Linked DNA regions of Homo sapiens: all the other regions are linked to region 3. Evidence: fine-mapped expression QTL. A gene starts in region 3. Each other region holds a variant in brackets. All regions are shown on one strand. Distances are between the middles of the regions.

Region 1 (8,268 bases), 52 kb before region 3:
CCTTGGCCATTCTTCATATACAAATCCCTCATTGCTGTAAATTGCCCTGTGCCTGCAGTATCTAGGATTTTAAGCATACACTGTTGGCAGTTGACTTCAACTTGCTTTCTGTAGGAATCTTCTATCGTTGGGTCATATTTTTCAACAAAAATTCCCTGAACAAACTGAACCATCAGAGCAGACTGCCCAACACCTCCTGAACCAAGGACCACTAGCTCACCCGTGATGTGGTCTGTTTAAATACTGATGATTCCCCCAGTCTGGCACCTCCTCCACCTCCTCCTCCCTCCTCCCTCCTCCCTCCTCCCTCCTCCCAGCTGCGGCTCCTGCTTCGGCTCTGCACAGCAACGGCTGATGCCATTTTTATATACAATATTTCACTTGGATCTCATGACCATCCTATGTAGAGGTGATATTATCTCTATTTTACAGCTGAAGAAATTTGAGCCTCTGAAGTTATGCAATATGAACAGAGTCCACTCCACTAAGAAGCAGTGGAGCCCAGGTTTTGAGCTGGGTCTTATAACTCCAAAGCCTGTGCAATGTTAAAAGATTTTAGCCAGGTACCAAATAATTAAAGATCCAAGTTGTCTTAACATTGTCATCAGAAAATCCTGGTTTCTCCATTAATCTCTTAACAAAACAAGAGAGCAGTAGTTTGTTAGCTCCATGGCAGAGAGGTAGCTTTTTCCAGCCTTCTTTCTGCCCTCCAATCCCCACCTTCACCTCTGACCCATCCCTGCTGCACCTACCTCTTTTTCTACCAAGCACTCATAAGGTAGATCCTGCTGCAGTGGACCTGTATTAAAGATATGTATCTTGATAAGAATGGAGGAAATAGAGGGATGGCCTTTTTCCATGAAGAAAAAGAGCCGCATTTCTTGAAATCAAGTAGAACTCAGGAGCAATATCTGGCCATTTATTTTCTAGGAAAGGTAAGTAATTAAAGAACATTCTAAAGAGACTCAAATATAGGATGTCTGTGCTTAAGGGCTGTTGGAGACCTTAGAGGTCAGGGACAGATTAGTAGATGAATATCCACATAACCATGGGCATGTCTGAACCTCAGTTACGTATGCAGTGACTAGTCAGAGCCTGATACGTAGTAGGTACTTAATGTATGGTAGTTATTGTCTGTTAAATGAGTTACATTTAATTTGAAAAATAGCTCAAACTGCTTAAGCACTAAATGAAGCAGTAGTTAATGTATACTAGTCTGGAAAAACTCACAAGGCAAGTTTCAAGAACCTGAATATCAGTGCCACTCACATGTTCCATTGTGAAGAAACATTAGAGTACAAAAGAGAGGTAGTAACTAGTGACAAGTAAGCTAATGTCCACATAAGAAAGGACCTGCAGAGTGTCAGTGAGTTATCAAGAATTGGAAGGGACCACTCACGTGATATGAGTGTAACAAGTCAAGGCAGGGATTTCTGATGAAGTACATTATTAGAAAGCAGTTTAAGGGCGTTAACTGAAAGTATATTGCTACAAAAGGTTGTCATCCTTGAAATTATTCATACAGCTACAGACTTCTCTAGGCCATCTTTTGTGCTTTGACATTTCCATTTCTAGCTAACAAGAACGTTTCCTTATACCTAAGAATCTAAATTTTTTTTACTCTCTGCTCTTCATGGTTACATTGGGAAAAAGCTGGATCAGATTGCCAAATACATGAGAAATTGCTTAAATGTGAAATTATTCATGTAAGCCTTCATGTGTTAGTCCATTTGCCTTGTTGTAAAGGAATACCTAAGACTGGGTAACTTGAAAAGAGGTTTGATCAGCTCACGGTTCAGCAAGCTGTACCTGAAGCATAGTGCCACCACCTGCTTCTGGTGAGGCTTCAGGAAGCTTACTGTTAGGACAGAAGGCAAAGGGGAGCCAGCGTGTCACATGGCCAGCACTAAAGCAAGAAAGAGAAGGGGGAGGCCCCAGACTCTTTTAAACAGCCAGATCTCATGTGAAGTCAGTGAGAACTCACTCATCACCAAGGGGACGGTGCTAAGCCGTTCATGAGGGATCTTCCTCCATGATCCAATACTTCCCACCAGGCCCACCTCCAACATTGGAGGTCACATGTCAACATGAAATTTCAAAGGGACAAATAACCAAACCGTATCACTTCATTTATATGCCATTGATCTAAGAGAGAAGAGAATGCTTTAGAAATTACATTTGATAAATTAACCAAGTTAGTATGTGGTGCTGCTAGCATCAAATCACAAGTATAACTTTGTTCACTCTCTTAAGGCTGTAAGCTGTGCCCACATGCTAAGCAGCCCTCATGATTTAAGAAAAAAAGTATGAGGAGTTAGGAAGTTTGCTACTGTACATCTAGGATTCATAGTTAAACCAATTATGGATAGAAGTCAGGTCCTATTTTCATTTTTCTCAATTATTTTTCTCTTTCTCCAGATAAAACTGGTGGTGGAGTGGCAACTTCAGGATGACAAAAACCAAAGTCTCTTCTGCTGGGAAATCCCAGTACAGATCGTAAGTCTATCTGGGGGTGAGAGGGCATGGGTGGAGGGAAGAAAGTGGAGGAGAAATCAGACTGAAACTAAATCAGTGCCATAAGATAAAAGGAATTTCAAGACTGCTGTTTTATGCCTCTCAACCTCTAAAAGCATCTGAGACCCTATTTCCTGAGAGCTCAGAACTGTTGCCTTTGTAATATCCTTTGTTAAAAAAAAAAAAGGTTGAAGGAAAGAAGAGAGAGTGAGACTGTAGAGATTGATTTAACTGTCTTCATTGGTTTTTTTCTGTCGGAGTAAGGAAGGTCCAGCCAGACAGGACCTGAAGGAGGTTGCTTAGGAATGTCTGATAACTTGCCCTAGGGTTATTGCCCTGACAGTGGAGGAAAGGTTCCAAACCACTTCCACTGAGCTGGGACATTACATCCACAGGTTTCTCATCTCTAAGTGCCTCATTGAGTTCGGTGCATCTGGCCAATGAGTCTGCTGAGACTCTTGACAGCACCTCCAGCTCTGCTGCTTCAACAACAGTGACTTGCTCTCCAATGGTATCCAGTGATTCGTTGAAGAGGAGGTGCTCTGTAGCAGAAACTGAGCTCCGGGTGGCTGGTTCTCAGTGGTTGTCTCATGTCTCTTTTTCTGTCTTAGGTGGTTTCATTAAATGCAGCACTTGGTTAGCAGATGTTTAATTTTTTTTTTAACAACATTAACTTGTGGCCTCTTTCTACACCTGGAAATTTA[C/G]TCTTGAATAAATAAAAACTCGTTTGTCTTGTCTTCTGCATGTGGGCTGTGGTCTTCTCCTGCTCCTTTCAGGGTACATTCTGCTAGAACCATGGAAGGCAGGCCCCCAGTTCCGTGGTCCCAGAGTGCACTGAAGACATGACTTTTTCAGAAACTCTTTTTCCTCCTTTTTGTCCAGTAAGACCATATCTATTTTATATAAAATGGCCTTGTTTTGCTTTATTTGACACAATCTTATACCACCAAGCATGCTCGAAAGAAGCAGTGAAAGTAAAAATCACCTAGTTGAATAATAACGCCTGAAAGGTTGAAGGAACTGAATTTGGTGGGGAGGGCAGGTAGGGGTTAGGGATTACAGGTTAGGATGAGGCATGGTGATCTTTTGGGAACACTGCTGTGAAGAAAGCCTAGAAGCTTAAAAATGAAATGTGAAGTTGTAGCAAGTAATGGCTAAATTAATTAAATCTTGGAGTTTCCTATCTTAAAGTACAAGTATAATCATGGGCATATATTTTGCCACCTATTTTGAGTCAGTATACTAGCAGTCAGCTCTTAGGTGGTACAGGGATTACAACCCCATTCACAATTGAGTTGAATAACATGGACCTTAGGTCATCCATTGTTAGGGCAAAAGGAAGGAACATTCATACAAAGTGCTTGTGAGCAAGTGATTGATTTGATCCAGTTCTTTTCATCCCACTAATTTCACTAGACCCTTGGATTTCTTTGGTCTGTGAGTTTCCCAGGAAAACCACCAGGGGACAGTGATGGATCAGGAATACAGTTATCAACAGCCAAGCTTTCCTAGTTAATGCTAGGAGCCAGTCAACCAGTGTACTTTTTACCTAAGATCTTTTGTGTATCCTGCCACATTGAGTCTAGAGTGACAGTCCACCTTGTCTCCCATACCAGACTCTAGATGTATCAGAATTGTGTGAATTCCTGAGGCTGTTAACTGTTGTGCGGGTCTCTGGCTTCGGACTGCCTATGGTTGAATCCTGGCACCAACAATTAACAGGACTACCAGTGTGATCTTGAAATCACTTCATCTCTCTGTGTGTCAGTCTCCTTATCTGTTAAATAGGACTAATAATAATAGGGCTGTGAAGACTAAATGAGATGAGGCATGTAAAACACTTAGAATGACCCTGGCTATAGTATATACTCTCTAAATGTTAGCTGTCACTCTGGGAGACAGACATTCTTCTTTGTCTACAAATAGCAGGAAAATTAGAAGGTTCAATCTGAGATTTGATGATGTCTCCTCAGAAGGATGAGGCTATCCTCTGTGCACAAGAACTTTCTGAAAGGCCTGGAAAAGCTCAATTCTCATGTGTCCACTGTCTCCCTATTCCCAGAAGATTTCTCATGCCATTTAGCTCCTTTGAAGTTAACAGCTACCCACCCTGCATACTCCTCTGCCCTTGTGTTAAAAGAAGACAGGACTCACAATACCATGCAAAATGAGTACTTGCCTCTAGCTAGGAACAGTGCCTACTTCAGGGAGAATTGATTTTGATACAGCTGACTAGTTTGAGTGTTAAACTATTTTGGAAATAATTTACATATCTAAGTTCTAAAATATATTTTTCTTTCCTCCACTTATTCTTCAAATTTGAAACAATGTTTTAATACTGTATATCTTTCATTGTTTATAACTTGCATTCTTTGTGAAAATTTGTTCTTAGGGACAAAAAAATTCTTAATCTTTTTATGTGTAAAGCAGGAACAGACAGATAATACATAAACAGATACATATTATATCTGCGGTATTAAAATTTGGTGGGGTGGTCGATTAGGATTAAAAGGTCCATAAAAGCTCCTGTAAGGAGTGATAATGAAAAGGGTGGGGAAGCACTAAAGACAAAGAGTATAAGTAGATATTTCAGAAATCGAAATTAAAAAGTATTTCGGCTAGTTTATACCCTTCCATCAGAGCAAAAGGGGAACACAACAGCTTGTGACTGTTTGCCAGCCATCGCGGGGCTACATGAAGCCTGCAGCCGTGAGCTAGGTAGGGCTCCCGTGGGGGGATTAGTTTGAAAGGTCGTCTTCTACAGACAGTTCACAGACGCCCCCGTGAGTCATTAAAACATTGAGAAGCACTGAATCTTAGGTATATCAAAAAGGTCATCCTCTTTCCAATGACCGTCTCATGCTTTTCTAGTCCACGGAGCAGGTTTTGGAGGCTCAGCTCTTACATGAATTCCAGGACAGATAAATCCCAGATTCTAATTGTTGAAATAATAATGAGGGGCACCCCTGCTTATAGAATAAAGGGAACCCAACACCTCATATCTCCAGTTTGGGAAAAGGTTAAATATGAAGACTAGTATTCAGTCAAATCTTCATACTAATAAAAAGCAACAAGCATGGAGTAATTTTAAATCCTGCATATTTGGTTTTTAAATCTTAGTTGACTTTTTTTAAAAGGAACAGAGTGATCTTTTTTTTTTTTAACACAAAGTCTTTCAGAAAAGAAACAGGGTGATCTTGATTATGCTTTGGAAAGGTTGATAAAAACAGCTTGTTCTCTGAGAACACCCTCCAGACATAGGAAGAGTGGCTTGAAATAGGTGAGGTCAACTAAGAGAAAATGATCTGGGATCAGCCATTCACTTCAGATAATCCAAAAAGCAATGGTTAAATGGGTTGGTACAAGGACAGGGTTACAGTATATAAGAAAAGCATTAGCACAGAAAAAGGAGTCGTGTAAGAAAGTCGCCAAGGTGAAAGTCACGTTAAACAAGTGTTTTTCCCAAGGAAGAGACAGAACAGGAAATAGAGGTTGGGGTATGCCTTATTTAAAGGCCTGGAACACTCAGGCGAGGGTGTGTGTGTGTGTGTGTGTGTGTGTGTGTTGGGAATGGGGCTGGGGGGAGACAGGGTTGTGTGTGTGTGTGTGTGTGTGTGTGTGTGTGTGTGTGTGTGTGTGTGTGTTGGGAATGGGGCTGGGGGGAGACAGGGTTGAGTGACCCAAAGTAGAAAGTGGCTCTGGATCTCCACAGATGTTGCCTGAAAGTCTTTGAAGGATTTGAGTCATTTTGGGTGGTTGTGTCTTTTTCTCTGAAGAGAATTCCTCAGCCTATCCCTAGATTCTAAACTGAATCCGATTCACTTACAGCTGTCAGTTGACTAGCAACTAAATGGTCTGGGTGTTGGTTGCCATGGAAACAGCTAAAAGGCCCATTGCTATGGGAACCTACCAGGCTCTCCAAACCAGGGGTTTGGTTCCTAAAAAGGGGTGGAGGGGAGGGTGGAGACCAGGAGATGGCCTGCATAGGTGGCTCAAGGGTCCTGGAAGAGGGTGGGCAATGTGGGTGAGTGGATCCGGCCAGCTCCTCTCGACTGGGGCAGAAGAACAGTGACCTCTTCTACTTTCTGCAGATGTTCCCATGCCTGTTCTCTGCTCACTGCCCAATGCTAGCCACAGAGCACAGGTGTTTGCAGTTGCAAATGGAGACTAAGAGCCTGAGATTCTGGAGCAGACGTGGCATGTCAGTGTGGCTCCCCTCACCTGCAGGGGCTTGGAGAAGGACGGCTCCCTTCTAGCAGGCCGTCCTCCACAAATCATATGTCCCAGATAAGCAGCCAGCAGGCAGAAAGATCAGCTTAGCTCTGACTGCCAGTGGGTAAGGCCAAGAAGGAGCCTGGCAGACAAATGGATGGCTGCTGGCCTTGAACATGGCAGAGCTGCTGGGTGTGCCAGATCAAAAAGCAGAGAGCAGGCCAGCAGCAGCAGACTGTTCTCAGCGCTGGAGAAATGCATTGCTCTGCCCACTACACCCTCAACCATCCATATGCCTCTGCCACAAAGGGGGATACTGCAAATGGATCAACATAGGAAAGATGAGGTTTGATGGAGATTCTCAGTGTACACACACAATGCTTGTAAGATTCTTTTCTGTTTTGCAATCAAAGTAACTCTCACATTAGTGTTTAGTGGTAAGATGATTTTTTTACTAAAACAAAGAGAAAACATCCCAGAAGCTCTTCCATTAACCACTGTTAATGTGTAATGTACAAATTGAAGGGATTGGACTAATCACTAAAGCCTCTGTCAGGACTAACAGCTTATGATGCATTGAGACGCTGAAAGGAAGTTGAAGAACCACTGGCAAATGGACACAGATGAATCGTTTTCTAGTTACTCATATTGTGAGGGCGGGGAAAATCTCTGAACTCCAGAGAGGCTTAGGATGGAGACTAAGGCCAAGACATTTGCTTTAGAGACCATTTCAGATATGTTGGGCCCAGGAGACTTTCACTTGGTTCTGCAGAATTCTGAGATTTGTGATGCTGATTTTTTTTTCTCCTAATCTTGCCTTTTTCCTGCCTGGAATTGTTAGTCTCAGACCCTCCCAGGAGCTTCAGAGTCTAAGAGCCTGGCACCAGAGAAAGAGAGAGAGAGAGATGCCACTAGAACTTGGACTGCTCCACAGGACAGTTGAGCACTTCCCCAGAATCTGTGGGGAGGTTTTCACTTTTGGAAGCAGTAGTTGTTTACAGATTTCTGTAACATTTAAAATGTTAAATACAAGCTGGGTTTATATCTCACCTCCAACTTTTTCCAGCTGCTTGACTTTTGATGAGTTCCTTAACCTCTTAGGGCCTTAATTTCCTCAGCTGTAAAACAGGATGATAAGAATATACCCACCTCAGGTGGTTCTAATGATGACATGAGATGGGGGATGCAAAGTGCTCAGTGCAGTACCTGACGCATAATAAGTAGCTGAGAAAGGTCGTTAGTATTATTATTATCATCCTAGATAAAAAAGGAAGGTTGCAGCCATGGAAACTGCTCAGTGGCCTAGAATCATAGGCATTTGCCATGCATTTGTCTTCCAAATTTAATTCCAGGTGCCTTTCAAGACTGATGGCCTCTCTGATGCCACACTCTGGTTTGCCTTCATTAAGCCAGATTCTAACCCTCTCTTTTTAAGACACTTAACCACATTCTTTTTCATGTATGATTTTTATGTGTCTGCTTACCTTCCTACTAGACTGTAAACATCTTGAGAATAGAGACTACCCTTTCATCTTTCAATAA
Region 2 (8,000 bases), 96 kb before region 3:
CTTCCCCACTCTGGCCCTGTGGCTCCAGGCACTCTAGTGAACCTCCAGAGCTTCTGTTACTGTGTTGAGATGCTAGGGTTATAGCTGACACCAAATTGCTGATTTTCTACCATGGACCCAACACTGAGCTGGCATAGTATGTATATCAGCTCATTTAATCATTTCAACCTCCCATCATAAGATAGTTGAGAAGGTTAATGAAGTGAGTGTGTGTAAAGTGCCTGGCAGAATGCCCAGCATAGAGTAAGAACTCATCAATACCTGGAATGAATGAAAACATGAATGAGCTCCTGGTAGGAAGCCCGGAGGTGGGGGTCAGTGTGGTGGAAGGTGGCACATCACAGGTACGGCAGAGGAGCCAAAAGTGACCTTCTCCTGTTTCTGTGCAGGTCACGACCAGTGTCACTCATGCACCTGCCTGGGTCACAGGTGAGTCCCTCTTCCTGGCGGCTCCTAGGCAAAAGAGAAGGGAGGGAAAGAGCCCTTAATCAGGAGTGGAGTTACTATGTGTGAGCTGGTTCACGCTCACACACACATCAGAGGAGGGTGAGAAGGACGTGGCCTGTGAGTGCTGTTTCTGGGAGCTCTCTATACACCTAAGGTGCTGTGAAGTCAGCGAGAGACCCCATGACGCTTCACAGATAGTTTTCTAGCCACAGAACTCTTTGCAAATTTCATGGCACCACTTAGCACATAAATCAGAACAAAGAGACAGCACTAGCTGAAACAGGTGTTTGGCTGGGTCGCTAGACTCTTTCCCCCAAGAGGTCTTGTCCTGAAACCACTACTTGCCTGTCACTGGTGTTGGGTTCAGACATTGGAAGGCTGAGCTCATGCTTCTTGTAAAACGGTAGAAGACACTGATGCCTGTCTTGCAGACTCTCAAAGCAAATAAGATGTTGGTATTTGTGGCAGAGCTCTGTAAGCTGTGAAATGCTTTGTAAGCAGAAGTGAAAGAATGTTGAAGTGGGAATTAGGAAACCCAGGTGTCAGCTGTGCCTCCGACAAGCTGACTGGCCTTGGACAAGTGACCATTTCTGCAAGCCTCAGTCTCCTGGCCCTGACATGGAGGATTAGACTGGATGTGCTCCAACGCCTGTTAGAGCTCTCAGATTCTCTAAGTGGGGCCAGATCAACTTTCAGGAGACTGGAAGGCATGGGAGTGACCCACCCCAGGCTTCACCCTTCGTTCTTGGGAGTCTGAGCACCAGGGAAGAGGGAAGGGCCATGGCCAGCCAAGGGGCCACAACCCCACCTCTTCCCCTCTCTCCTCCACAGGGAATGCCACAACCCCACCAATGCCTGAACAGGGGATTGCAGAGATACAGGAAGAACAAGTGACCCCCTCCACTGATGTGCTGGTGACCCTGAGCACCCCAGGTAGCTGCAGCCAGACCTTTGGGGCTCCCTGCACCCTGCCCTGTGAGCTGTGTCTGTCCAGAGCCAACTCCAGGGCAGGGGCATGAATGGAATGCCCCCTCACCTTTCCAACTAGGTAAAGTCCCCAGCAGGCTCCCAGCTGGGCTGTGCACCCCTGGCCTCATCTTACAAAGAACACAGGGTCCCTCTTGTGAAAACAAGAGCCCTGCCTGGAGCACTGCCCAAGCCCAGAAGGGGGAAGAGAAGGGACACCATGGGAGAAGGAAGCCAGGGGTCTTCCAGGAGAATCTGGGGGTCCCTCTCAAGGAAGGGGAGCATGGGGAGTGAGGGCCACTGGGATCCTGGCTCTTCCAGGCCACTCCCCTGAGTCAGCAGAGTGCCTGGCAGCGAGCAGCTGCCTGCCCACGGGGAGGGCTGATTTTCGGGAAGGAACATGGTTCTATTTCTCAAGGTTGTTTAACCAAGCCTGCATTCCTCTCCCTCTGGTCAGCTACAGTGATGGGGGCGAGGGGCGGGTGTGGGGGCGATCCTGGCAAATCCACCTTGCTCTGGAATGTGCCCTCCTTAAAGGCTCATTGTCTGGGGACTTGGTGCAGGAGAAGCAAGGCGGGTGTTGTTGCCGCTGCTCCCTGTACACGTGTGTGCCCGCTCCTGGGGCTCCTGCTCTCTTAACCTTACGACTGGGTCCAGAGACCCAGTCACCTTGTGTTGGGGGTGAGGGTGGTCAGGGGGTTCTGGATTTCCTTCAGCAAAGGGAAAGCCCCTGCGCCTGGTGGAACAGTCCAGAGAGTGGGGAGTAGGGGTCCAGCCTTCCCAGGCACACCCCACTGACCTCTCCTGGGACCTCTCTCCTCTGGGCTCAAAGCGCTGCTCCAGGGAGCATCCCCTTCTGGCCTCTGCTCAGCAGGCAGAGTGTGCAGAGGAGTGCTGAATTTCTGACAAGGAAAATGGACCTGGAGGAAGGGATGGGAAGCAGGGGGCAGGGGGCAGGGGGCAGGCCAAGCTCAGCAGCAGCTCTTGGCATGTGGATGAGTGTCCCCACCGCAACCCCAGCCTCAGCCTTTTGCCCTATCCCCCTTCTCCTCTGCCATTCTGTAACCTCACCCCTCTGGGCAGACATTTAGGACCCAGCTGAGGGCCCCCACAACCCCCAAGGCTGACACAAACTTAGAGCCAGGCCCGGGGAGAGGGTAGCCTTGGGTGCACATTCAATTCAGTACAATCTGGCAGACTGTTAAGCCCCACTGTATACCCACGTACAGACCATTCCCCAACCCATTCCCTTGGGTCTTCGGCTTCTCCCAAGCTATGGGGGCGGGGCAGGGACCCCTGAGCATGTGGGCTTCAGGCAAAGACTTCAGGGTGGACACAAATGCAGAAGCATCATTCATTCATTTATCCATTTGGCATGTTCTAAGTGCCAGGTACCTTTCTAGTATTAGGGATACCGTTCAGAAAGCTAAAGTCTCTGCTGTCTACACAGCCTCAACCCCGAGTCCCAGTGAGTCTGCCTCCAAACTATTTCTCAATTCTGTACCTGTCTCCCCACTTCTCACCCCATCACCACCACCCAAGGCAGACCCTCATTTAAATTATTTCAACAGGTTTTAAGGACCCACTATACCTCCCTTACCAGTTCATCCATCATCTCGTTGCCTGAGTGGCCTTTCTAGGACTGCTCTGACCCACCCCCACCTTTCACAAAATCCTTGTTACAGGCCAGTCTCAATGTGGCTTTCAAGGCTCTGCTCAGCTGACCCCAGTCCACCCCTCCCATTTTCCCCTGGCAGTTTTCCCCAAGCACCTTACTCACCAGGTCTGTCTGTCTGTCCAGGGAAAACTGGGCAGGAGTTGCAGGGAGGGATGGCGCTGGGCACTGGGTAGGAGTCAGGCCCATTTTCGGGGTGGGGCTAGGATGGAGGGGTTTTGCTGGAAATTTGCTGGAAATATGGGTTATCCATTAGATCTCGGTGAGGGGGATGCCCTACTATGACCTCCATCCTGGGTAGGGCTCGGGGTGCTGGGCAGAGGTCCCCTAGGGTCTTATGCAAGGCCAAGCTGTGCATGGGTATGGGAGGGAGGGCCTGGCTAAGGTTGGCCTTCTGAGGCCCCTAGACCCTGGCCACTGACTGTCCCCACCCCGCTCCACTGCCTTTGTCCAGCACCCACCCTGCCATAACCTCTGTTTTGCTCTGTCTCCCACAGGCATTGACAGATGCGCTGCTGGAGCCACCAACGTCTGTGGCCCTGGAACCTGCGTGAACCTCCCCGATGGATACAGATGTGTCTGCAGCCCTGGCTACCAGCTGCACCCCAGCCAGGCCTACTGCACAGGTATTCACTTGGGTGCCCTGGGCTTACTTGGCGGCTGGGGTAGATGGGAGCAGGGGCTAAGAGGCC[G/C]AGTTGAGAGTCCAGGAAGAAGCAGAAGGTCCAAGCAGTGCTGGGTGGTTGATGAGTTTAGGAGGAGCACAGTCCCTGTGGACTAAGCTAACTTTAACCTTCAGGGGAAGACCAGTCTCGGTGAGCCCCATCCGATGAGTCTCCAGGACTCCAGGAGCACAGAAGCCAGCCCATTGCATGCATCCTGGCCTGTGCCTGGCAGCCCTCTTCTCTGAGATCAGCCCACCCCTCAAACTGGCCATTTTGCTGCCTGGAGAGCACACCCAGGACTGCCCCAGTTGCAAATGTCTCCACCAGGGTCATCCGTAGGGGGAGGTCTGAGGCTAAGATAAATCATCAAGTGTGGACCTCATTCCTCCTCCCCCCAATATTTTCAAATAAGGGAGAAATATCCATTGTGGTTTCAAAGGAGAAAGGAATCATGAGGCTACTGGGGGAAGGAGTCGAGGGGCAGATAGGAGGGGCTGGCAGTCACGCCAGGCTTCTGGTGCCTGAGTGGGCCCACTGGGCTGACTTTATGGCTTCCAGCCTTAGAGATTTTCAGCCTCCTCCACTCCCTCACCCCTTCCTTGCCACACAGCACCATCCCCTGCCCAGCCCCTAGTGTGGGCAGGTTGCTGGTAGGTGCCCAAAGAACGGCACCGCTGGCCCCCCTGACCTCCCTCCCTGCCTTCTTCTGGTCAGATGACAACGAGTGTCTGAGGGACCCCTGCAAGGGAAAAGGGCGCTGCATCAACCGCGTGGGGTCCTACTCCTGCTTCTGCTACCCTGGCTACACTCTGGCCACCTCAGGGGCGACACAGGAGTGTCAAGGTAAGCCAAGCCCGCCCTTGCCCTTGGCCAGGCCCCACAGTCTTGAGGGGGTGGAAGAGGAACCAGGGGTTCACACCCCCAAACACCGTGCCGCAGAATGGGGAGTGGGCAGCTGAAGGAGTGAAGGAGGAGAGACCAGAACTCCAGCCTGGATCTGGGAGGAGGCTGATTCTATGCCAGTGGCAAGGAGGGGTAGAAATCCAAAAACCAGCAATCTCTGCAAAGGCCCTAAGGAATTGTGGGTGGAACCAAGAGTGTCACAGGGTCAGGAGACATGGCTGGAGATGAGGATTATGCAGCAGGCCCCCAAACTCCGAGTGACAAGGAGCTGGTTTCATGTCAGGGAAGGAGGGAGACCCATAAGGATGCCAGGCTGGGACTACTGGCAGACCTGGGAGTAGGTGTGCCTTTGAACGAGGAGCACGGCTCCTCAGCAGCTTGGAGGCACTTGTAGGGCTTTGCACTTCCCTGGGAAGATGTGATGTGGCCCACTGCCAGGGGACCCTTGATAAATACGCTCCCAACGCAAACCCTTTAATGATGCAAAACACCCCACATACATTTTTTTCCACATACATTTTTATGATTAAGTTCACAAATAATATAATGCAGCACTTTCTAAGCAACACCTTAAGATTCATAATCCAGTTGTAAATCCTTCACCTCAAGAGGGACCCTGCCTGTGCTTGGGGCTCACATTGCTGGTTCTGGCCAGACCCCCAGGGAGGCCAGGGAAGCTGTGTACCCTCCTGCTGCCAGGATCCCCTCGGGTTCCAATCCCCCAAGGGTCCAGTTTACAGAAACCAAAGCCATCCAGGTCCAATCACTTGATTATGGAGGGAAGGGAAGTAGAAGGGGCAGACCTCCTAACTTAACGGAGGAGCGGGAGAATCACGGGTAGTGTTCATTATGCTCTCATGCGTTGGCACCACCTATGTGCCAGGCACTGTGCCAAGCTCTGAGGATGCTGAGATGAGTGAGGTGTGAATGGTGACACTGTAGGATCCAGATGAGGAGCAAGTTGTTCTGTATGAGATTATTCGGGTACTCGAGATGGAGCAGAATAAAAATAGCTACCATTCATTCATTCATTCATTCATTCATTCATTTATGATGGAGTCTCGCTCTGTCACCCAGGCTGGAGTGCAGTGGCACAATCTTGGCTCACTGTAACCTCTGCCTCCTGGGTTCACGCCATTCTCCTGCCTCAGCCTCCTGAGTAGCTGGGACTACAGGCGCCTGCCACCACGCTCGGCTAATTTTTGTATTTTTAGTAGAGACAGGGTTTTACCATATTGGCCAGGCTGGTCTCGAACTCCTGATCTTGTGATCCACCCGCCTCGGCCTCCCAAAGTGCTGGGATTACAGGTGTGAGCCACCACACCTGACCAAGAATAGCTACCATTTAATGAGCACTTAATATATGCTGGCAATGTCCCAAGCATTTTGTTATATGAAGCTCATCATCCCAACTCCATGTTATGGAAATCCTTAGCCCCATTTAATAGTTTAGCAAACTGAGGCTCAGAGGTGAATTGAAATACCCAGGGGCCTCAAACCTAGTGGTGACAGAGCTAGAAACAGAATCAAATCACTCTAGCTCCAAAGCATGGTTTGCTTCCAAAGACACACTCCCTTACACACAGGGTGTTGGAGCATGAATAGGAATGGAGCGTGAATAGGAATTGAGGGAGCAGAGGGTATTCCAGGTAGAGAGAAGCATCTTTGCAGAGACCTGAATAGTGAACGTTCCCTGGCATGCTCTGGGAATAATCATGAATGCAGTATGACTGGAGCAGGGCTACCTGGAGGAAGAGGCCAGTGTGGGAAATGTCTTGAGTGCCAGGCTGAAGCGCTTGGACACTGTCTCACAGGCATGGGTAGCCAGTAGAAGTCTGTGAGCAGAACAGTGGTGACTGGGTCAGCTGACTTCCGGGGAGCTGACTTAAGGGGCAGGGCTCAGAACAGGCTGGAGGAGCCAGGAGAGAGGCTGAGGGAAGGAGGCTTCTCTGGGCTCCAATCGTCTAGGTGGGTGTTGTGGGCCAGAGGCACTGCTCTTTGCAGACCCAGCCTGGGGAGCTGGCCTGGGATAAGCAGCAGCTGCTGCAGAGAATGGTGTCACCAGGACTGGTGCAGACACAAGTTTCTGCCACCGTGCCAGCCTGGGTGTCCAAGATGTCTCTGCCAGCCCCAGCAGCTGGGGAACGGGGATGGGGTTCAAGGCTGGCTCTAAGTACTTCTCCCAGTGGGGCTTGGGTACCACTGGAAGAGGCCTTGTCCAGAATAACACCCACTTTCTGAAGCTTCCCAGTCTCATAAAGTAATATCTCATTACCTCAATGATTTGATATTTATATCTATTTATAGATTATTTAAATAATGTATATATAATTAATATAAATCATAATTTATATTATCAATAAGATAAATTATTTACATATTAAATATCTAAGTAAATGTTTACCAATAAATGTAAGCATCTCTTCATACATTAGCCTGTGGGTTTCCTCATCTGTAAACTGCTGGCTCCCATTTTTGCTCAGTTTTCCAATGGTGGTTGCTGCTTTTTCCTGGGGCTCTTTAGGAGTCCGTTATATATTCTAGATTCTTGGCCGGGTTTAGAAATTGCAATGCTCCCATTTTGTCCTCTATCCTTTAAGCTTATCTACATTTCTTGGAACAGAAATCCTTAATTTTGATTTACTGAAATTCACCATTTTGCCTTATTTTTGTGTGTTTTGGGGGCTTTGTTTAAGAAATCCTTCCATATCCTGAAGTCATAAAGATATTCTCCTATACCTTAATTGAGTTCTAGTTTTCCCTTTTATGGTATGCTTTGATTCATCTGGAGTCCATCTTCATATGGCTGTTAAGAACCTGGTCTTTCTCTATTCACGTCTCCATTTTTCTCCATGGAGTGAGGGAGTTTTCCAGCACCATCTATCAGACAGTCGTCCTGACCTCAGGGGATAATGAGTTCTTCATCCAGTTCCCACATACGGCTCTGTCTATGAGTTCCCTTCTCTCTTCCATTGGGGTTAGAGCTTCTCACAGTGAACACCAGTTATTCCAGAATTGCCTGAAGAGCTATAACAGCGTGGGTTCCTGGGCCCACCAGTACAGCAGGATCAGAATCTCTGGCTGTGGGCCTAGGAGTGTGCATTTCCCACCTTCTGGCAGAGACTTTGCTGTGCACTGGAGTTTTATGAAGTATTGCTCAAGTGAAGACACTGTCCTTAAACAAATGGTTATTATTCAATTCCTTCAGTAAGCACTTATTGGGGTTCTGTGCTGGGCACTGGAGATGCTGAGATAATAAGGCATGTTCCCATTAGTCAGGGAGAAGCAAGTAAATGAACAGGTACACTGAAAGCTGGGCCCTCAGGGGACGCTGGGTTGGAGATAAG
Region 3 (8,268 bases):
GAAGGCCTCTTTCTGCAACTCCCCCAGCCCCATCACACTGGCTCTGGCTTCAAGGGCAGGAAGAAGGCAGGATTATGCATCAGTTTCATTTTTTTTCTTTTGGCTTGGTATTGATCTCTGACTATTTTTTCCAAGTTGGAAGTTACTTAGCTTCTCTGGTTACTTAGCTTCTAGTTTTCCTCATCTGTAAACTGGGAATTATACATGTTTATAAGAATGAAATGAGATAATGGCAAAGCAGATGCTTCAAAAATTGCTGTGTGTTGAGCAGCAATTGCACCACTGCACTCCAGCCTGGGTGACAGAGTAAGACTCTGTCTCAAAAAAAAAAATTGTAGTGTGCAAGCAAATATAAAGAATGCTAGGCCGGGCATGTTGGCTTACGCCTGCAATCCCAACACTTTGGGAGGCCAAGGCGGGTGGATCAATTGAGGTCAGGAGTTCAAGGCCAGCCTGGCCAACATGGTGAACCCCATCTCTACTAAAAATACAAAAATTAGCTAGGTATGGTAGCACACACCTGTAATCCCAGCTACTTGAGAGGCAGAGGCAGGAGAATCGCTTGAACCTGGGAGGCGGAGGTTGCAGTGAGCCGAGATCATGCCATTGCACTCTAGCCTGGGTGACAGAGTGAGACTCTGTCTCAAAAAAAAAAAAAGAATGCGTATTCTTCCGCTCATTTTCATTTTGTTACCATATCAGGTGAAAGAACCCTGCCATCTGCTTGCCACTGTTGATAAGCCCCACCCTGGCACCCCCAACCTCTCACACATATACGCTCACTCATCCTTGCTCCAGCAAAGTGGGAAAGTGCCAAGAGTGCAGGTTACTCTGCCAGGGTGCAAATGCTCACATGCCCCGAGCAGCCTGCGGATGCCAGAGTTAGTGGTGGAGTTCAGAGCTGTGCAGTCTGCGGTGGCTGGATTCCTTCACTTTATGCTCTGGTTCTACCTCTCAAATTGGCAGTAGCTCACCCACTCTGCTCCCCAGGCTTGAGTGAGTGTGTGCCTGGCAGGAAAGCAGGGAATCGGGCGGGACCGGTGCTAAGAACTCTCCTCATCTTCTTTCCTGGGCATGAATCAGTGTGTTTCTAAAGAAATGGCTTCTTCCGTTTTGCAGTCTCCTATGGAAAAAAGAAGTGAGCAGCTGTGGTAATGTACTTCCAAAGCCCCCCAAATAAGAAGTTTAAAAGACAGACAACTCTAGACTTCATTGCTGGGGGTCTGCCTCAAACCAAAGGGCCTGACTCAGAAGCAGTAAGGGTTTCCAGGGTTCTCTCTAGCATTAAGGGTCAAGAATTTGTTCCCACTATTTGCTTACAGCCACATATGCACCCTTCCTTGGAACTGTGTCATCCTGGAGCCATATCCATGAGTGCAGGATTTGGCTGATGGGCAGTCCAAAGGCCCACCTCTCCTGTCCTCTGCCAGACAATCCCTCCTTTAGCCAGGGATTTGTGGGTCACAGCCATATGGCCTTGGCCGTGAGCTCAACTCCGAGGTAGAGGGCTCACTAGGCCAGGGGTGGGGCTCACCTGTCCTCTTAAGGGAAGCATCTCTTCCAGTGTGTGGCCTATTGAAGTAGTAGTGGGGCAGGCCTCTCTATGCTTGGTGCTGATTTACATTCCCTAGAGAACACTGTGAGGCAATCAACCCCTTGTAAAAAGAACCAAGAGTTTATGCATGAAAAAGCTTATGAAGGGAAGTCCCCAGGTGGGAAGAGATTAGCAGCCGGAGCTGACTCCAACTAAAACAGAACCCTCTAGGGTTGGATTTCACTTAAGGAATGTCAGAGATGTGGGAGGAGAAGAGGACACGAGGGCATCCCCTCCCAGGTTTTCAGCCAGTGCCTACTCTGTCCCTTACCTGTGGTCCTCACCCTAGTCCCAGCGAGGATGCTTGCTACCTCCAGGTGAGCTTCCAGGGCTGCTCTGCCCCAGTCAGCTCTCCTGGCCCAAGTCTGGGCCTTTCCCTTTTCCATTCAGATAATCAAGACAAGATGGGAGGAGCCTTTTTAGCTGAAGAAAATTTTCTAGGAACCAAAGGGAAAATAAAATTTTAAAAAAAGAGAGAGTGCCTAGAAACTGAGGGGCTATGGTGCTAAGCAGCATTACCCAAGGTAAGCAGTTTGCTCCCCTCCTGATGCCCTCTGGTAAATAGCATTAGCTTCCCAGCAGCAGGAGCCCCCAGTGTTACCCTTCTGGACTTGCTCCCTTCCCCACAACCAATCTCTCCTCTCTGTTTTCACCCAGAAGTGTCTTAAATCCGTTCCCTGCTCCCGTCCTGTTGACTCTGCCTTGCTCAAGTTCTCACCACCTCTTTCCTGGGCTCTGGTGGAGCTTCCTCATCAGTCCTCCAGGCTCATCTGTTCACTCCGGCCTTCCTACCAACAATCCCCTCCTCCCATGGCCTGCCTGGTGACTGTCTCATCCTTTAATAAAACTCAGACCTTCTCCAGGAAGCCTCCTGGGACTTCCCCAGGCAGGGTGAGTTGTTTTCTTCTCTGGCACTCTTCACTTACTCCATGACAGCATTTATCACAAGGTGTTGGAATTGCTGGTCAACATGTCTATGGACCGCATCCCCTTCATTGCAGCTCCTTCAAAGGCCTGGACAATGGTTTATACTTTCCATTCTTGGTGTCTAACAGAGGGGTTGATTTTCATTACATGGCAGGAAATGCTTGATGGAAAAAGGAAGGGAGGGATAAAGAGAGAATGGAAAAAGAATGGAAACTTTGCATGGTTGTAGATTCTTCAGTCCCTAAGCCACCCCTGTACCTTGTGAGAGGTAAAGGTTAGTTTCCCGGGAAGAAATTCTTATCACTGCATTACCCACTGTTCTCTGTCACAAGCATCATACATTGCTGATTGCACTTATAGTTTCTTCAGAGCTATTGAATTATAAGAAAGCAAAGGCCCAGGAAGATTAGGCGACTGCCTAAGGTCGCACAGCCAATTAATGACAAAGGCGAGACTAGAACCTGGGTCTCCTGGCACCAGGCCAGGGCCCTTGATACAACACCAACAGCCTCTCTTTGAGTTTTCCCTCCAGGCAGCAGCATGTAATTATCAACATTAGTATTTAGAATTTATATGCGGCTTTTGCTTCACTGGCTTTTTTATTATCCTTTCAATTAGTATTTCAGTATGCAGCCCAGGCATGGAGCACAGCCAGGGTGGGGAGGGGAGCAGCAGAGGGAGGCCAAGGCCAAGTAGGTGGCCATGAGCCCCTGTGAGAGGAAGGCCAGAGAAAGCAAAGGTACAGGAGGGTGGCCTGACATCAGAGACAATGTCTTGTGTGTGTGTCTGTGTGTGTCTATGTGTGTCTGTGTTGTGTGTGTGTCTGTATGTCTGTGTTTTGAGGAGGAGGGTGTCTGTGAAGATGAAGTATGGGCCTGAGATGAGTGGTCCAAGACCCTTGCTGGCCTCAGGGGGCTTCTCACTGCATTATCCACTAATGGGGCAGAGACAGGAAGAGCAATAATATATTTAGCACCCAACAAGTTAAACACCAATACCAGCCCTGAGACAGACCCCAGGATAAGGGAGTTCTCTGTCCTGCCTTGAAGGGAAGGAGACCCAAGCCCCATGATGTGGACTTGCTCCTGGCTCCTACTGTGCACTCTAGGAGCTACACCGAACTGTGCCAGATGCCCACATCCTGTGGGAGTGAAGGAGTCCTGGAGTCCACCATGCTATGTGCTATAGCATCCTCAGCTGGATGCTAGGAGACTAGTGGATGCTAGTGGAATCCCACTGCCAGACCCTGGTTCCTTGTGTCTTCCAGCCCCAGCTGCAGCCTGCTCTGTGGTTTACTTTGCAAACCCACACTTACCTTCAGAAAATGAGAATACTCTCTCCTCCTGACCTCCTGGGACTTTGGTGAGACTCAAGACCTTGTGAAGGCGCTCGAAGAATAGGTTCATCCACTGGTAACACTCAAGATAGGGCATCCCCATGCAAAAAAAAAAAAAAAAAAGGAAACGCAGGTGGAGGTGGATAAAGAGCAGCACAGGGTGGAGACAAAGCAGCCAAAAGGCCTGCATTCGGATCTCAGGGCTCTTGCTGGGAAAACTCAGGGGGACGCTCACTCACTGAGTGCCTATTGAGTGCCAATGTGTCACGTATGTCATCTCATTTTGTCCTCATATGACCCCTCACTTTGTCCATGAGGAACCTGAGGCTTTAAGAGGTTAGGTAACTTGCTCGAGGTTATACAGCAAGTGGGACCCTAGGACCAAAACTTAGGTCCATGAGCTTTAAAACCTGTGCCCTTCCCAGCACAGCACTGAATCTCCAAATCACAGGATTTCATCCTTGTGAGCCCAGCGTCCTGGTCTGCAAAATTGGAGGGGGAAGGGGGACAGGGGGAGGGGGGCAGGGGGAGGGGAAGAGGGGAAGAGGGGCACTATATTGCCTAATAGAGTTGTTAAGAAAATTAAATGAGCTTATGTTGATTAAACACATTATCGGGCTTGGTATCTGGTATATAGTAGGTGCTCAATAAATGCTTTCTGTTTGTTTTTCTTTTTAGGGCAGATCAATGTTAAAAACTCAGGGCTGGCTTTGGAGCCTAGGAGCTCCAAAATGCTTCAAGAAGCCCAAGGGCCTCCCATCGCTCTGGGGTGCGCGGGAGGAGGGGAGAGAAGGGCTGGGAAAGAGGGCTCGGCTCCAGGAAGCGGGTACGCGGGTTCCAGCTGCGCGCCCCTCGCTTCGCCGCCTCCTCCGGGCTCCCCCGACTTCCCGCCCCGCCCCGCCCCGGAGCCGGGTCCGGAGTGCCTGGTGGGCTGATTCCGGAGCGTGGAAGGGAGCACGGAGCACGGAAGCGAGAGGGAGGCGGCGGCGGCGGGAGGCGGGAAGGAGGGGGACCCTCCTCGCTGCTCTCCCAAGTCGGCGCGGAGCCGCCTCGGGCCGGGCCGAGGGCTGCGCGGCGGCGGCGGCGGCGGGGCCCGGCCAGGATGCGGGGCTCCCGGGACCGCGCGGGGCGGGGCGGGCGGCGGCGGCGGGCTGCGGGCGGGAGCTGTCCGCGGTGCTGAAGCGGCGGCTGCTCAGGGACGCGGGGACGAGAGCAGGGGAGCCCTCCTGGGAGTTCCACCGCGACCGCGAGGCGGGGGCGCCGTCGCTCACCGGCCCATGCCGAGCCCCCGAGCCCCGCGGAGGAGGCGGGACCGTCCGCGGCGGGACAGGTAAGGGGCGGTCTGGGGGCGCCGCGGGAGCGCAGAGCTAGGCACGGAGCGGGGAGTGAGCTGGGGAGGGCACGGGAGCCCTCTCGGGGCTAGGGGCTCTGACTCCCTGCTTGGCCGCACCTTGCGCTCCGCCAAGGCTTGCACTTCGTCCCTCCCTACCCCTCATCCTGCAGGCTGGGGGTGCTGGGAGGGGGCTGATGAACTGGGGTCAAGACACCATAACCTCACAACATCAGGCCTTGACCCTGACCTCAGGCAGCTCCTAGACATCCTGCCTACTGACGGCAAGAAATACTGATTAGAGCCTCAGACTCCCTGGTACCCCAGTCCCCACCAAGGTTTTGCGACACTAGCAAAATCTGAGCAGGCTTCACTAAGCTCCCCTCTTCTCGCACCCAAACCTGTTCACCCAGGTGACTGAGGTGGCTGTGGTACCCCCTGCTCTGAGATTTCTCTGCCCTGGAAATGGCTCTTGGGCCAAGGGATTGGCTCTTGGGCCAAGGCCCCTTAGGATGGATTAACCCATTTCTTCAGGGAAGGAAGGAGGTCCTGGAAGATACCTCAATTTTTTTTCCTATGACACTCTTGACGCTCACAGAAGCAGGCAGGATTTGCATCACATCTCTTGGCGCATGAGGGCAAAGAGTCAGGGAACCTGGGTCCTGTTTTCTATTATGTGCTGGTGACCCTAGACAGAGCCTCCATTAGGAGTTCTCTCTCTTTCTGGCAAGAGTGCGCTGAATGAGCTCATTCAGGCCTGCAAAGTGCTTCTAGTTCTTCAGAGCAGAGTTCTCTATGACTGGCAGAATGTAGCGATCAAAATAAAACTGCGTGGAGGAAGAATTGGCCTACCCTTGTGGCTGACCACTTCTTTCTACTGCTTTATCCCCACCCTCCAACCCAACACAACTTCCCTACCCCCAGGGGTAGAAAGAGCACTAGAGTAGGAGTTCCTGGCTGGGTGCTGGCATTTACTGGCTTTAGCTAGTTCCCTAAGCTCTTTCAACCTCATCCTCCTCACCCCTGGAGTGGGGATAAGGTCACCGCTCTGCTCACCTCAGGGAACTGCCTTGGGGCCCAATGAAAAACAATGCACCTGATTGGAGGCTTGCCACCTGTACATCTCCATACCAGTGTGCGCTGCTGTCACTGTTCCCAACCCCTAGCCAGGCCTGCTGTCAGTGACCTGATTATTGTCACCCCTACCCCCTCTTCTCCCAGCATGGCCATGTCTCCCTTTGTCCTTGGCCACCGTGGGGTCCCAGAATCAGTGAAGCCAAACTTATAAACCTTAAGGAGAAAAAAGTGTGCCCTCCCTTCTTCTCCTCTTCCATCATCACCTATAGGAGATAATATAAGGTAAGAGTCTGACTCACCGGTTTTTATTTTTTCTCCCTAAGAACCACAGATCTAGGGAAAGAGCTCCCTGAAGGCAGGAATTGTGTTGTTTTCATCTCTTTGTCCCCCTTCATGACCCCCTCCCCAACAGCACCTGGAAGATAGTAAGGACTCGGTAATCGGGTGTAAAATGAGGGAATGAAATGTTAAAGTGTATCAGAATAAAAGCATTTAACTGGGAGTCAGAAGCCCTGTGTTCTGGTCACAGATCCGCCGCTGTCTCAGGCAGGTCCATTCCCCTCTGGGGGTTCATTTTTCTCATCTGTAAAAGAAGAGAGTTGGGCTAGATGAGTTAAGATTTCAAGCCCTGATATTCTGTAGGGCTTTCTGAGGCTGTCCTAAACCCATAAACCCCTCAATTCTGCTTGAATACAGGATGCCGGCTTTATCAACCTGGTTTGACAACAAAGTTAATGACCTTTTAGTAATGAACTGGATTTTATGAATGGAGTGAAAGTGAGCAATAGGAACCAGAAAAAGCCATTTATATTTCTGATGTTTTCTTAAGAACCCCCTCTCTTATTTCTCTGGGAAAGCCATAAGTGTGACTCAGAATGACTGAACTGAGAGGGGCTCCTGCCTCCAAGCCCAGAGGCCAGGAACCACCACCCCATTATCCCTGCCACCACCACCACCACCACCACCACCATCTCTTGTGAGTAACAAAGGGCCAGGGACCCCACCATTGGCCATCTCCTACCAGGGACCCTGCCTGGCTATGATCTCCCTCCTAGGAAGACCAGAGGAGGGGACAAGCAGGAAATATCCATCCCTACAGAGAATTTATATTTGTGTTACGTGTGTGTGTGTGTGTGTGTGTATATATATATCAATCAAAATGAGTTTCTCTGATAATAATTTCCCTCAACTGTGGCAGGTCCAGCCGATGCTCAGAAAAACCTTAGCTAATTGGCATTTCGGTAGAGCTGAGTAAACCATGCCAGTGACCTCGCCGAATTATTCTGTGAGTGCCCAGCCAGGGTGGGGGACCAGTCCCCCCTCCTCACGTCATCGCTTTCTGGCTCCCAGCTGTTGGTGCAGCACTGGCAAGAATCAGCTCTCTGGAGTTAATGGACAGTCACTAACCCTCATAACAAAGTGACGGCAGCAGCAGCAGCAACAGCAAGCTAGTGAGGTGTTTTCTTTTCTGCAAGGCTGGTCTGCAGAGGAGCTGGCCTGCTACTGGGGTGAGGACAATACACTAGCCTTCCTTCTGCAGCTGTTTGGGTGGACACCCCACTCCCAGAGCTGTCAGGGTGCAGGGCATCTCTGGTCACCCAGGCAGATGACATCTGGCTCCTCTCCTGACCGGGGAAAACTACCCATTGGCTGCTTCCTGTGTTCCCCTCTTGTTCCCTCCTTGCTGAGGCTTTTATTCTGGGCCCTTCTACAAGGCCTCAAAGGGAAGAAGGGAGTCAACCCTGGCATATGGCACATGATTGGGTGATCTTGGGGGCGGGGGGGCTGCTGAGAAAGAGGAAGAATAAATGCAACATGGTCATTAAGAAATTGTGTGGCCAGGTGCAGTGGCTCACGTCTGTAATCCCAGCACTTTAGGAGGCTGAGGCGGGTGGATCACTTGAGGTCAGGAGTTCGAGACCAGCCTGGCCAACATGGCGAAACCCCCATCTCTACTAAAAGTACAAAAAGTAGCCAGGCATGTAACTTCAGCTACTCGGGAGG

Alleles and levels. Alleles are on the strand shown, and positions count from the first base shown. SD is a standard deviation of normalised expression in the study named. Not every link is listed here.
In carriers of allele G in region 1, the expression in tibial artery of the gene that starts at base 4,889 in region 3 tends to be higher than with C alone (large effect, 1.1 SD a copy in GTEx).

Evidence for each region.
Region 1: its variant is fine-mapped to the expression of SYNDIG1L in tibial artery (GTEx, PIP above 0.99). The same link has a PIP of 0.9 or more in aorta, esophagus muscle, lung and unexposed skin.
Region 2: its variant is fine-mapped to the expression of SYNDIG1L in tibial artery (GTEx, PIP above 0.99). The same link has a PIP of 0.9 or more in subcutaneous fat, sun-exposed skin and transverse colon.

What each region holds. Positions count from the first base shown.
Region 1 is chr14:74,474,930-74,483,197 of GRCh38, reverse strand. NPC2 (NPC intracellular cholesterol transporter 2) reads left to right here. Exons shown (of 5, transcript NM_006432.5): 4 at 2,419-2,496; 5 at 2,910-3,258. The coding sequence ends at 2,924. MIR4709 (microRNA 4709) reads left to right here and starts at 2,994; the gene lies at 2,994-3,065. It also overlaps a transcript of SYNDIG1L not described here and the pseudogene RAP1AP. The variant C/G (reference allele first, on the strand shown) is at 3,219.
Region 2 is chr14:74,518,504-74,526,503 of GRCh38, reverse strand. It overlaps LTBP2 (latent transforming growth factor beta binding protein 2), which reads left to right. Exons shown (of 36, transcript NM_000428.3): 14 at 390-429; 15 at 1,279-1,380; 16 at 3,586-3,714; 17 at 4,465-4,593. LOC124903347 (a long non-coding RNA gene) reads right to left here. Exons shown (of 3, transcript XR_007064266.1): 3 at 7,186-7,900. Among named protein-coding and RNA genes, the nearest start is that of ISCA2, 29 kb to the right of the region's middle. RefSeq lists enhancers at 1,777-2,716, 3,178-4,056. The variant G/C (reference allele first, on the strand shown) is at 3,781.
Region 3 is chr14:74,422,831-74,431,098 of GRCh38, reverse strand. SYNDIG1L (synapse differentiation inducing 1 like) reads left to right here and starts at 4,889. Exons shown (of 4, transcript NM_001105579.2): 1 at 4,889-5,187.